Homo sapiens: one gene and its partners. The protein of the gene in region 2 purifies or fractionates together with the protein of the main gene of each other region. This does not show direct contact. Each region holds a gene or a part of one and is shown on either strand. Other genes may lie near its edges.

Evidence for each region.
Region 1: the proteins of COA3 (region 2) and COX5A purify together in Homo sapiens (affinity purification with western blotting; 3 studies listed by BioGRID and IntAct, with this or other methods). This does not show direct contact.
Region 3: the proteins of COA3 (region 2) and NDUFA9 purify together in Homo sapiens (affinity purification with western blotting; 2 studies listed by BioGRID, with this or other methods). This does not show direct contact.

What each region holds. Positions count from the first base shown.
Region 1 is NC_000015.10:74,936,710-74,940,532, reverse strand, and holds the start of COX5A (cytochrome c oxidase subunit 5A, mitochondrial precursor), read left to right. Parts: upstream 1-2,459; 5' UTR 2,460-2,518; coding exon 2,519-2,618; intron 2,619-3,823. UniProt on the Homo sapiens protein: Component of the cytochrome c oxidase, the last enzyme in the mitochondrial electron transport chain which drives oxidative phosphorylation.
Region 2 is NC_000017.11:42,797,196-42,801,018, forward strand, and holds COA3 (cytochrome c oxidase assembly factor 3 homolog, mitochondrial), read right to left. Parts: upstream 1,510-3,823; 5' UTR 1,487-1,509; coding exon 1,273-1,486; intron 973-1,272; coding exon 866-972; 3' UTR 430-865; downstream 1-429. Other genes in the region: CNTD1 (cyclin N-terminal domain-containing protein 1), read left to right, coding at 1,873-2,041. UniProt on the Homo sapiens protein: Core component of the MITRAC (mitochondrial translation regulation assembly intermediate of cytochrome c oxidase complex) complex, that regulates cytochrome c oxidase assembly.
Region 3 is NC_000012.12:4,647,469-4,651,068, reverse strand, and holds the start of NDUFA9 (NADH dehydrogenase [ubiquinone] 1 alpha subcomplex subunit 9, mitochondrial precursor), read right to left. Parts: upstream 1,956-3,600; 5' UTR 1,943-1,955; coding exon 1,894-1,942; intron 1-1,893. UniProt on the Homo sapiens protein: Accessory subunit of the mitochondrial membrane respiratory chain NADH dehydrogenase (Complex I), that is believed not to be involved in catalysis. Required for proper complex I assembly.

The DNA of each region.
Region 1 (3,823 bases), on a different chromosome or scaffold from region 2:
ACCTCAGCCTCCCAAATTGCTGGGATTATAGGCATGAGCCATCGCGCCCAGCCTTAACTTCTTTTTTTCTTTTTTTGAGACGGAGTCGCACTCTGTCACCCAGGCTGGAGTACAGTTGTGCGATCTCGGCTCACTGCAACCTCCACCTCGCGGGCCCAAGTGATTCTCCTGCCTCAGGCTCCAGAGTAGCGTGCGCCACCACACCCAGCTAATTTTTGTATTTTTCGTAGAGACGGGGTTTCACCATGTTGGCCAGGATGGTCTCGAACTCCCGACCTCAGGTGATCTTCCCACCTCAGCCTCCCAAAGTGCTGGGATTACAGGCATGAGCCACCATACCTGGCCATGTTTCCTTTTCTCCTTTTTTTTAAAAAATTTTATTTTTGAGACGGAGTCTAGCTCTGTCACCCAGGCTGGAGTGCAGTGGTGTGATCTCGCCTCACCGCAACCTCCACCTCCTGGGTTCAAGTGATTTCTGGCTAATGTTAGTAATTTTAATAGAGATGGGGTTTCACCATGTTGGCCAGGCTGGTCTCAAACTCCTGACCTCAAGTGATCTCCTGGCCTTGGCGGCTCAAAGTGCTAGGATTACAGGCGTGAACCACCGTGCTCGGCCTTAATTTCTTTATGGCCAGCTGTTACATAGAAAGGCAAAGAGAAAGGTTAGAGCAATATTTTTAGGCTTTATGGCTGGCTTTGGGACAAAGGGGTTCTACTTTCTAGACCCCCTCTTGGGGAGGAGGGATTCTAGTTTCTGTGGCATGCCTGGAGGGAGAGTAAGGGGCAAGAGACAAGAGGGCAGAAGGTCAGAGAGAAACTGCTTCATAGGCCTTCACTTTGTGGTATTGTTTTCTAAGCCCCAGCACTAGGTTGGTGGGAAACGGTGAGGGCAGGTGCTTTGAAAACATTTTAAAAATCCTTTTCCCCGCCAGGTTCCTACCCACTGAAGCCACACTGCTAGGGAGGAAAAAGAGAAGGGCAGATGCTGAGGCCCTGGAGAGTCGGCCTGAAGTGAGGAAGTGGCACATGAATGGCCACCTTTTCTTTCCTCAGTGTGCCCAGGGATAGAGAATGGGAGACAGCAAGACAGAATACAATGTCTCATTAACTCTGGGCAGCATCCAGATACTTCAGGCCTGGGAGAGGTGTCCTTGACTGCCCAGGGGCTCAAAGTTAGGATGTAGCTAGTGAGATAAGATGCAACAACTGTGGAACTTGATCAACCCTATTTCAGAGCCATCGTGGATTCAGGAGCCCTCCTGTAGGAGATGGGAAACATTCAGGTGAGAGTCCTCAGAACTGGGGATGTGGCGAAAAGATCCTTGACTGCCAGCAGCAACCTAATTTCTGAGCCTCTTTCCTAATCTGTGAAATGAAGTAGTTTAACTCATTTTTTATGCAAGCTGGTTTGTGATATAAGAATATGTACTAATAAAATCCCTTACGCATAGGCCTTTTTTTTTTTTGAGATGGAGTTTTGATCTTGTTGCCCAGGCTGGAGTGCAATGGTGCGATCTCAACTCACTGCAACCTCTGCCTCCTGGGTTCCAGCAATTCTCCTGCCTCAGCCTCCCAAATAGCTGGGATTACAGGCATGCGCCACCACACCTGGCTAATTTTGCATTTTTAGTAGAGACAGGGGTTTCTCCATGTTGGTCAGGCTGGTCTCGAACTCCCGACCTCAGGTGATCCGCCCGCCTTGGGCTCCCAAAGTGCTAGGATTACAGGCGTGAGCAACCGCGTCCAGCGGCATTCTTTCCCCCATTCGCTGTTTTATTTTATGCCACAATGAGAAGGCGGGGCTAAGCAAAGTAGGTTTTTGTTTTGTTTGGTTTTTTTGAGACGGAGTTTCGCTCTTGTTGCCCAGGCTGGAGTGCAATGGCACCATCTCGGCTCACCGCAACCTCCTCCTCCTGGGTTCAAGCGATTCTCCTGCCTCAGCCTCCCGAGTAGCTGGGATTGCGGGCATGCGTTGCGCCACCACGCCTGGCTAATTTTGTATTTTTAGTAGAGACGGGGGTTCCTCCATGTTGCCCAGGCTGGTCTTGAACTCCCGACCGCAGGTGATCCGCCCGCCTCGGCCTCCCAAAAGTGCTGGGATTACAGGCATGAGCCACAGCGCCCGGGCGCAAAGTACGTATTTTTTATTATAGTTTGTTGTTATTGCTGTCATTCCTATTTTGAGGTGATTAAGTGCCCTCCTGGGCCTGACTCGAACAAGATCACGGTCGGTTGCTCCTCCCTCGCCTCCATTCCTACTTACAGGATGGCAGCTGCACGTCACCTGACCAGAGACAAGGCGGGACGCGAGGCTAACAGTTTGTCCTCAGCGCGCCGCCGTAGCCCCCGCCGCCGCCGGCCGCGCGGTGGCTCCTCCCGCCCACGCGCCAGAGTCGCAGTGGGCGGGCCTACGTGCTCCGCCCGCTGTGAGCCTGTCCGGCCCCCGCCCGCTCCGGAGCAACCCGCGAGCTTACACCGGCTTCTCTCTGTCCTCAGCCCGCGCGCCGCCATCGCCGTCATGCTGGGCGCCGCTCTCCGCCGCTGCGCTGTGGCCGCAACCACCCGGGCCGACCCTCGAGGCCTCCTGCACTCCGCCCGGACCCCCGGCCCCGCCGTGGGTAAGGCCCCTGCTTGCCACTGCCCGCGCCCTCGTGTCCTTGCGGTGACCTGGGTCCCCGCTGCCACTCCGGGGCGGGCTCTCCCCGGCCTAGCCCTTGCCCTACCCTGGTTACTGAACCCGGTGACCGCGGGCCGCCCTGCCCGCCGCCTCGAGTAGTGGAGGACCTGAAAGCGCGCCCCCGGGGCCTCCCCCCGCGCAACTTCCTGGCTGTGCCACCGCGGACAGGTCAGATGTGGACCTGCTGTGGGCGCCGAGGAGGGGACGCAGCGCTCCCCTTCGGTTCCCGGGCCATGACCCTGCCCCAGCGCCGACCCTGCGGCCACCTGACCGAGAGTGGCCGCCGCCGGCCTGCAGCGCCTCGGCGAAGGTGACATTGAGCCTCCGGGCACGCCGCTTGGGGTCCGAGGACACAATATACTTCCGTATGGGACACACGATTATACTTTTCAATCAGGCATTTCTCGGTTAGCGATTAGTGTGTCACCTTCACAGCCTTTTCCATCATTTTTAGGGTCTGCTGTGCCACGTTCTAATTCTTCCACGTTTAAAATAGATGGAAGTGTGTGGTTGTTTCCTGATCTCCGGAAGATAGCCAGAGTTTTGATAGGGCTTATGATAAAAATATCACTCTTTTGAAAACTGAATGTCACAGACACAGGAATACTGGGTTTTACAAGCATAGGAACGCTTCGTGTTTTTTCCCCTTTGTAATAGAAGCCTGATTGCTGGAGTATGAGACGTGCTTCTGATTTTTGTCTATTTTCCTTCCCTTTATATGTGTGCTGGGAGGTTTTGAGTCCACCACCATAGAATAATTACAGTAATTGCACTTCGATCTTGGTCCGTGAAATTTAGCTTCTATGCATGCATATTATATTTTATTTTTGAACCTGCATCACTGGCAACTATGCATGCGTATTTAAACATAAGAACTCAGAAACTCGTTTCAGGGTATGCTGAAGTTAAAAATTAAAAAAAGAACTCAGCCGGGCGCGGTGGCTCATGCCTGTAATCCCAGCACTTTGGTAGGCCGAGGCGGGCGGATCACCTGAGGTCAGGAGTTCAAGACCAGCCTGGCCAACATGGTGAAACCCTGTCTGTACTAAAAATACAAAAAATTTAGCTGGGTGTGGTGGTGGGCGCCTGTAATCCCAGCTACTCGGGAGGCTGAAGCACAAGAATCGCTTGAACCTGAGAGGCGGA
Region 2 (3,823 bases):
GCTTCCTGCCATCAGTTAATGAGGAAACTGCAAGGTCAGTGATCCACTTGACTAAGTTAGGATCCCCTCCAGACCCCACCCTAGACCTGTATAGGCAGGTACCAGGGAAAGTTAAAAGAATGAAGACTGCTTGTCTTTCACCCTTCATCCACCTCTCTCTCCCTCCCTCTCTCTGGGGATGGGAAAAGCAGTAGAGTTACAGTATGTTCTTGTGGGTAGAGGACAGAAGAGTGACCTTCCTTCCCCTAAGACGTGGGTTCAGTCTCAAACTGCCCAGTGATCTCTCCCTTAAATCAGGTGGAAAGATCTCATGGAAAAAGTAATTCTAGTTAAACATTTACAGCTCCCTGGGGCAATGCCACCACTGCAGCTACTGCTTGTGAAGCTTTCCAGCATGAAGTGCCATATGCTGCCTCTCAGCCTCCATACTCACTTGACTCCAGGAGAATGACTCAGTTTATTATTCTCAATTTGACCCTATGTATCCCACTGTAGGCTCAAACACTGCACAGAGCTGCCACGTCTAACCTCGTAACAACTGCGTCCCTGGAAGGTGAAGGGGGTAAACCACAAAGTCAGAAACTTTGGGAAAAGCCACGGTCGCATGCACACCTCTCAAACAAGGAAACAAACTACAAGAAAGGGCTCAGTCATTGTACACAGCAAGTGTGCAGTGGGCAAAGTTCTGTTCTTTTGACATTGGCCAAATGCGTAAGTCCCTGGTTTCTTGGGCTCAATCACGGTCCAAGGTTAGTAAGAAGGCCAACAATGTTGTGAGCAGGATTCAATTTCTACAGGGTCATGGGGCATCATCCACCATGTGAAGGGGCTCCAGCAGGTTGGACATGATCAATACCCATCCAGATTAGGACCCTGACGCCCTTGCCAGAGCTCGGGCTCGGGCAGCTTTGGCCTCGTCTTCTAGCTCATCTAGGAAACGCTCCTGGGAAATCGAGTAGAAGGTGTAACCATCTGGGGAGGTAGGTTCAGGAAACCACACAGAATATGCACATTCCCCTTTCCTAGATTTGCTCTACCACTCTTGTTACTCTCCCAAATCAGTGATTCCGGCTTCCCGCCGCTGCTGTTTCTAAACCCTGAACCCCAATTCCGTTATTATTAATAAATCAAATTAAAAGAGTACCTTAGGAATAACAAAGGAAAGTACTACCCATTTTACCCCAAAATTAAACGGGTGGTTCAGCCCTCTTGCACACTCTGTTCCCCTGCCCCTATATGCGGTCCCCTTGAGTCTACAACACGGACGGATACAAATAGCCAACACCAGGGCCCCGATGCCTAGGCCGGTCACGATGTTCCGGGTTCGCCGCCGTGGTAGGACCTTCTGCCACTGGGCAAGCTCCGCCTGCCGCATGGAATGCAGTTGCTCGGGTGTCAGCTTCTCCCGAGTCGGGTCGATACGCTGAGCGAACGGGGCCTCTCCACGCTTAGAATCCAGAGGGTCACCAGCTCCCGAAGACGCCATGTTGCCACTCCTCCCTTCGCGGTGCCGCCGCGCGGGCCTCGCTGGGAACAGTAGCCCTTGGCCGCTGCAGTGGACTCTGGGAGTTGTAGTCCGCGTGCCCTTTGCGGGGCAGAGCCGCGGTTCCCGGGCACAGGGGATGGACGCGGGAGGTGAGAAGCGGACGTGCTTTCTGATTGGCTGAGGAGTCCGTGGCCGTTGGGGCGGGAAAAAGCTGTGGAGGGTTCGAGGCTGTGGTGGTAATTGGGTTTTCCTCAGACTTGAGGCGACGACACACTCATTGGAAGGGGACGAGGAATCCAGGGTGTGGCAGAAGACTGGAGAGGAGCTAAGGGGGTCGGTATGTGGATCCAGTGAACCCGTCCAGGTGCCCCAAGAGGCTCGTGAATATGGACGGACCCATGAGGCCACGATCGGCCTCCCTCGTTGACTTTCAGTTTGGAGTTGTCGCCACAGAGACGATTGAAGACGCCCTGCTTCACTTGGCCCAGCAGAATGAGCAAGCAGTGAGGGAGGCTTCGGGGCGGCTGGGCCGCTTCAGGGAGCCCCAGATCGTGGGTGCGGCTGCAGGGCCGGGGTGCTGGGTTCTTGGGAGACTGGGGCTTGTGTCTTTCAGGCACCGACCTTGAGATTCCGTTGATTTTATTCATTCAGAGAATGTTTGCTAACACCTCTCTGTGGGGTGCTGGGGATATAGTGATGGATAAGTCACAACAGTGCCCTCCCCTTGATTTCTTCGACATGTATGGAATACTTGAGTGGCACCGCTTGGCTAGAAAGATGAAATAGAGGGCCAGGCATGGTGGCTTACACCTGTAATCCCAGCACTTTGGGAGGCTGAGGTGGGAGGTTCACCTGAGGTCAGGAGTTCGAGACCAGCCTGACCAACATGGTGAAATCCTGTCTCTACTAAAAGTACAAAAATTAGCCAGGACTGGTGGCGCGCACCTCTAATCCCAGCTACTCGGGAGGTTGAGACAGGAGAACTGTTTGAACCCAGGAGGCGGAAGTTGCAGTGAGCCGAAATCGTGCCATTGCACTTCAGCCTAGACGACAAGAATGAAACTCCGTCTCAAAAAAAAAAAAAAAAAAAAAAAAAAAAAAAGGCTGGGCGCGGTGGCTCACGCCTGTAATCCCAGCATTTTGGGAGGCTGAGGCGGGCAGATCACGAGGTCAGGAGATCGAGACCATCCTGGCTAACATGGTGAAACCCCGTCTCTACTAAAAATACAAAAAAAAGCCGGGTGTGGTGGCGGGCGCCTGTAGTCCCAGCTACTCCGGAGGCTGAGGGAGGAGAATGGCATGAACCCGGGAGGCGGAGCTTGCAGTGAGCTGAGATGGCGCCACTACACTCCAGCCTGAGTGACGGGTGACAGAGCGAGACTCTGTCTAAAAAAAAAAAAAAAAAAAAAGAGAAAAGAAAGATGAAATAGAGATAGAGGTCTTGCCTTCAAACCATGTGCAATTTGGGGGAGATATTAGAACAAATATGCAATGACTAGGTACTATGGTTAGATAAGAGACGTCAGAGAGAAATAAAACAAGCGTTTATGGGGGTTGAGAGGAGCGATGGGGTAATAGGAAGAATTCAGGGGATGGCCCAGGCATCGGGACATTTCAGGCAGACCTTGAAGGAAGGAGGACATTGGGTTGGTGAAGGGGGAGGAAGGAGACAGTGTTTCTACCAAAAAGAGGTAGCATGAGTAAAGCTATGGAAATGGGGTGCTTAGGGTGCATGTGGGTACAGTGTAGTCCATGTTGGCCAGTGCATGTGGAAGAATAGTTGAAATTAATACTGGAAAGGTAGTTTGGAGACATTCCATGTGGAAGTTTGAATGCCAAGGGGAAGAGTTTATCCTTGGTTTGGTAGGAAACCAAGAAGACATTGAAGGTTTTTAAATAAGGGAGTGAAGGTTTTAAAATAAGGGATACGATGGTAACCCTGCCTTAGTAAACATTATTTTGGCAGTGATGTAAAGGAGGTAAAGGATGGATTAAACCAGAGGGAGATGGGATGTAGGCAGACAGGTAGAGTCAATGTCAGTAGGCTAGGTGATAGGGCAGAGGGAATAACAAGGGAGGGTGGATTAAAAACATTCTAGAGGCAAAGTCTAGGGTTCTGCTGTGGATAAATTTAGGAAGTGAAGGAGGAAAACGTGACTATGCTAAACGGTTGAGCCTGGAAGACTGGAAGTATAGTGGTCATTAAAAGAAACACACAGACACGGCCGGGCACGGTGGCTCACGCCTGTATTCCCAACACTTTGAGAGGCTGAGGCGGGTGGATCACGAGGTCAGGGGTTCGAGACCAGCCTGGCCAACATAGTGAAACCCTGTCTC
Region 3 (3,600 bases), on a different chromosome or scaffold from region 2:
TGGCATACAGTTTAAACTACATAAGTGTTAGCTATTATTACTATAGAAAGCAATTTTTAGGAGTTCTAATTTATATTTCCACAACTTATTAGGTCCTCTTGCACAACTCCCTTTGGAGACTACCGATCTAAACTCTGCTTGGCTTTCAAAGGTCTCCATTGTCTGATCCCATCTAACACATTCAACCTCCTTTTCCACTATCCCAGATATTCAGGTAGTCATTTCACTGCCTCTTGAATACCTCATGACTCCATTCTCACCCACTTGTCTTTGCCAGAGGACTTTCCAGATCATAACAGCCCTAAAGAGACCAGTGGGAGCACTACAATTCTCCACTGGTCTTCCAATCATCCCTCAGTACCTCAAATGATACTAATCTTTCCCTTTTATGATTTCCTGTGATACTTAATAGTCTTGCCACACTTAACTATATATAGTTGTCTTACACAGTTCTGTCCTATAGTGTGTGGATTATGTTACATACTAGACTTGCCTCTACAGAATTTACTCAAAAACTTACTTTACCAGACAATAACGCAGAGTGGTTAAGAACACAAGCTATGGTGTCAGTCAGAGGAAAGTAAGTTAAAAGAGGAAAATTAATAAAAATACCTAGAACTGGAGATTGCAGATAGCAGGTACTCAATAAATAGTGATTACCATTCACAATCTACATTACGTCATACAATTGTAATAGTTTAACAAGAACCAGCAAATGTCTTTGCAAAGACATTGTGACTACAAAACCATCCACTATAAGTGATGTGCACCACCACCTTCCCAGTGGTATGCAGGAGTTCTACCCAAGATGGAAAACAAAAAAAAAAGGATCCTCTAAACACTCCTAATTCTTGCCTCAGGCTGAACATCAAGCCTATCTGTGGTGCTTTTAAAAATTTAAGGTGCAAGGAGCTAATCTCACAAATTCTGACTCAATAGCTCTACACTCAGTCCTCATTTCTAATTTTTATAAAGCTTTACGAGTGATTCTGACATGAGCCAATTTTGAAAGCAAATGATATTCTGTAACGACTAAAATACACTAAGAAAAATACAACTTTGGGGGTTTGATTGGAATATGTTTGTGGAAGAGTAGAGGGTGAAAGGACAATGATGAAGTGTAACCGTATTTCTAATTTCCTTGCTTTTTAGTGAGTGGAAGGACAAATGTATGTTTTCAGTTTGAGGAGTGGGAGCAGATCCAATCAGAACAGAAGAGAAACTAAATAATGCTAACAAATTCTAACATAGCCTTCATTCTTCACTTTCCTTTCCACCAAGCTCCTGATTCTTCTCTCCTCAAACATCACTCTCTCCCCCAGACCCCAACGCACTTTGCCGAACACATTCTACATCCGTAGAGACGCTTTTGGGTAAAAGGATGCTTTTACAAATATTAGCTCATTTAATCTTATCAGAGACTCCCTGGTATTGTAATATTATCATTTCCATTGTGCTCATATGAATTGAGACCCATTAAGGGTTTGCACAAGGTCATAAAATCAATCTAAGAAAACCTCTCGCCACTAGCCTTTTTTCCCTCCCTTACACATTTCTCCCCCCGCCCCATACAAATATTTCTCATAACCCTAAACCCTTACAACCATATCAGAATTCTGATTCTCTCGATCCCTAACGTGTCCCCCGCATTCTCCTCTTCGCTTACAGCTGCTTAAGATCTTTTGTCCCCTCCCAAGGTGGTGCACAATTGAATATGTGAGCCGGGGAAGCGGAAAGCGAAAGGAGAAACCAGACTGAGGCAGCTCCAAACCTAGAGAAACCAGAGTGTGCCTAGGAAGTTGGCGTGACCGCTGCAGCACGGTGCCACTTCCAAAACCTTAAATCCCCGTCTCGGAATCCCGACCAGGGGCCGCCGTTCCCGGTAACACTTACGTGACATTGACAGGACCCGGACAACCCGGGATTGTGCGGCAGCCGCCATCTTTTCCCACAATCCCCCACGACAGCACTCCCGGCTGACTACGGCTGCTAAGCTGGGTCAAAACTTACCTTTCTCGCCTGTCTGCGCAAGCGCTAACCAAGAAACGACGGTTTCGGGTAGATTGTTGGTTAAGAAGAAAGCTGGGAAAGTGAAGGAGAGGGGGAAGAAAGGAAGTGAAAAGACTTTGGCTGTTGGAATCTCAGATCTGGAATAGGCTGTATAGGCTATTTATAATCTCTAATTGCCGAGGAACCTGAAGTTCAGAGTTAACCAGTGACTGACTCAGGACATGCAAAATGGCAAGACCCGAGGTAGAAGAGCTCACCTTTCCTGACTCTCAGTTTCCTGTTCCCTGAAAATGTAAGCTAAGCTGGCAGCCCTGGTGAGTCCGGAGGAAGAAGGAGGCGTAGCCCTCCGCGCTCAGGAGATCCAGGGCCCAGGAGAGAGAAAAGGGGGGACAAGAACGAGGGGAAAAGTGGAGAAGAGAAACCAAAATAGGGTGTGTCCCAAGTAAATAAATGTGCGTCGAGCCCGCCAAGCACATTCTCTCATAGGGACCCTTGCGCCTGCTGTTCGCGTTTCCTGGAATGCACACTCAGGTGTCTGCACCAGCTCAAGTCTCTGCTCAAAAGTGACCTCTTCGGATAAAACTTCTCTGACCATCCTATCCAAGGTGGTAATTATTCCACCAATTTTTGGTTTAAGTTTATATACCAAAGCACTTATCACCAACTAGCATATGAATCTAGGAGTTCTTAACCAGAAGTGTGATTCATGAGTGGGCTTCGGGAAATCTGTGAACTTCCTGAAATATTATGCAAATTTAGTGGCCATGTGTGCCATCTGAACATCTGTCTAAGGAGAAACTGCAGATGGCTCTCTCTAGCGCAATGGCTTGTAATTTTTTCTTTAACTGTGGTCACCTTTGAGAATCTGCATTGTTCTACAAAGAGCCATCTAGAAACTGAGGAAATTCCAGGTTAGACTAAGCGCTTGGATTTTAAAATACTTTATTCTGGTCAACCTCTCCAGATTGCTGGGTAGGAGATGGCAACCAGTGATCCTGTGAAACATACCTTAGGCTTATCAGAAAACCACCTAGTTTGGGGAGGGCGGGTTCTTTCTAGACTTGGTAATCCTTCCAGTGCTTTGTTTTTTCAGGAAAAGTATGTGTTTCTGGGATAGACAAAAAGGCCTGTGATGAGTAGGGATGTAGAAGTTGCTTATTACTAGGCTTGAAATCTTGGCTGTTTCCACTCTATCTTGCCCCTACTGTTTACTGAAGTGTCGCCTAACAAATTGAATTGGAAGAGAGAAAAAAACCTTGAATTTCATCGGAGAAGCTTAGTAGTAACGCTACACTGTCATATTTCTTGGCCTTATCCTATGTTCACTTAACACAATTTGCTAATACTTGATTTTGGGACCAATATGGATACTAACATACTTTCCTTGTTCGGATCAACAGATCCTGACTGTCATCAGCAACCTGCTTACTCCTGTATAACACTGCCAATTATATAATTTAAAATCTCTAAGTTAAACACTGCCTCATGTTCTCAGTTCTAGTTTCAAGGTTGCATGGTGTAATTAAAAGAACACTGACTTTTTTTTTTTTCAGAGATGGGGTCTTACTGTATTGCCCAGGCTTGTCTCAA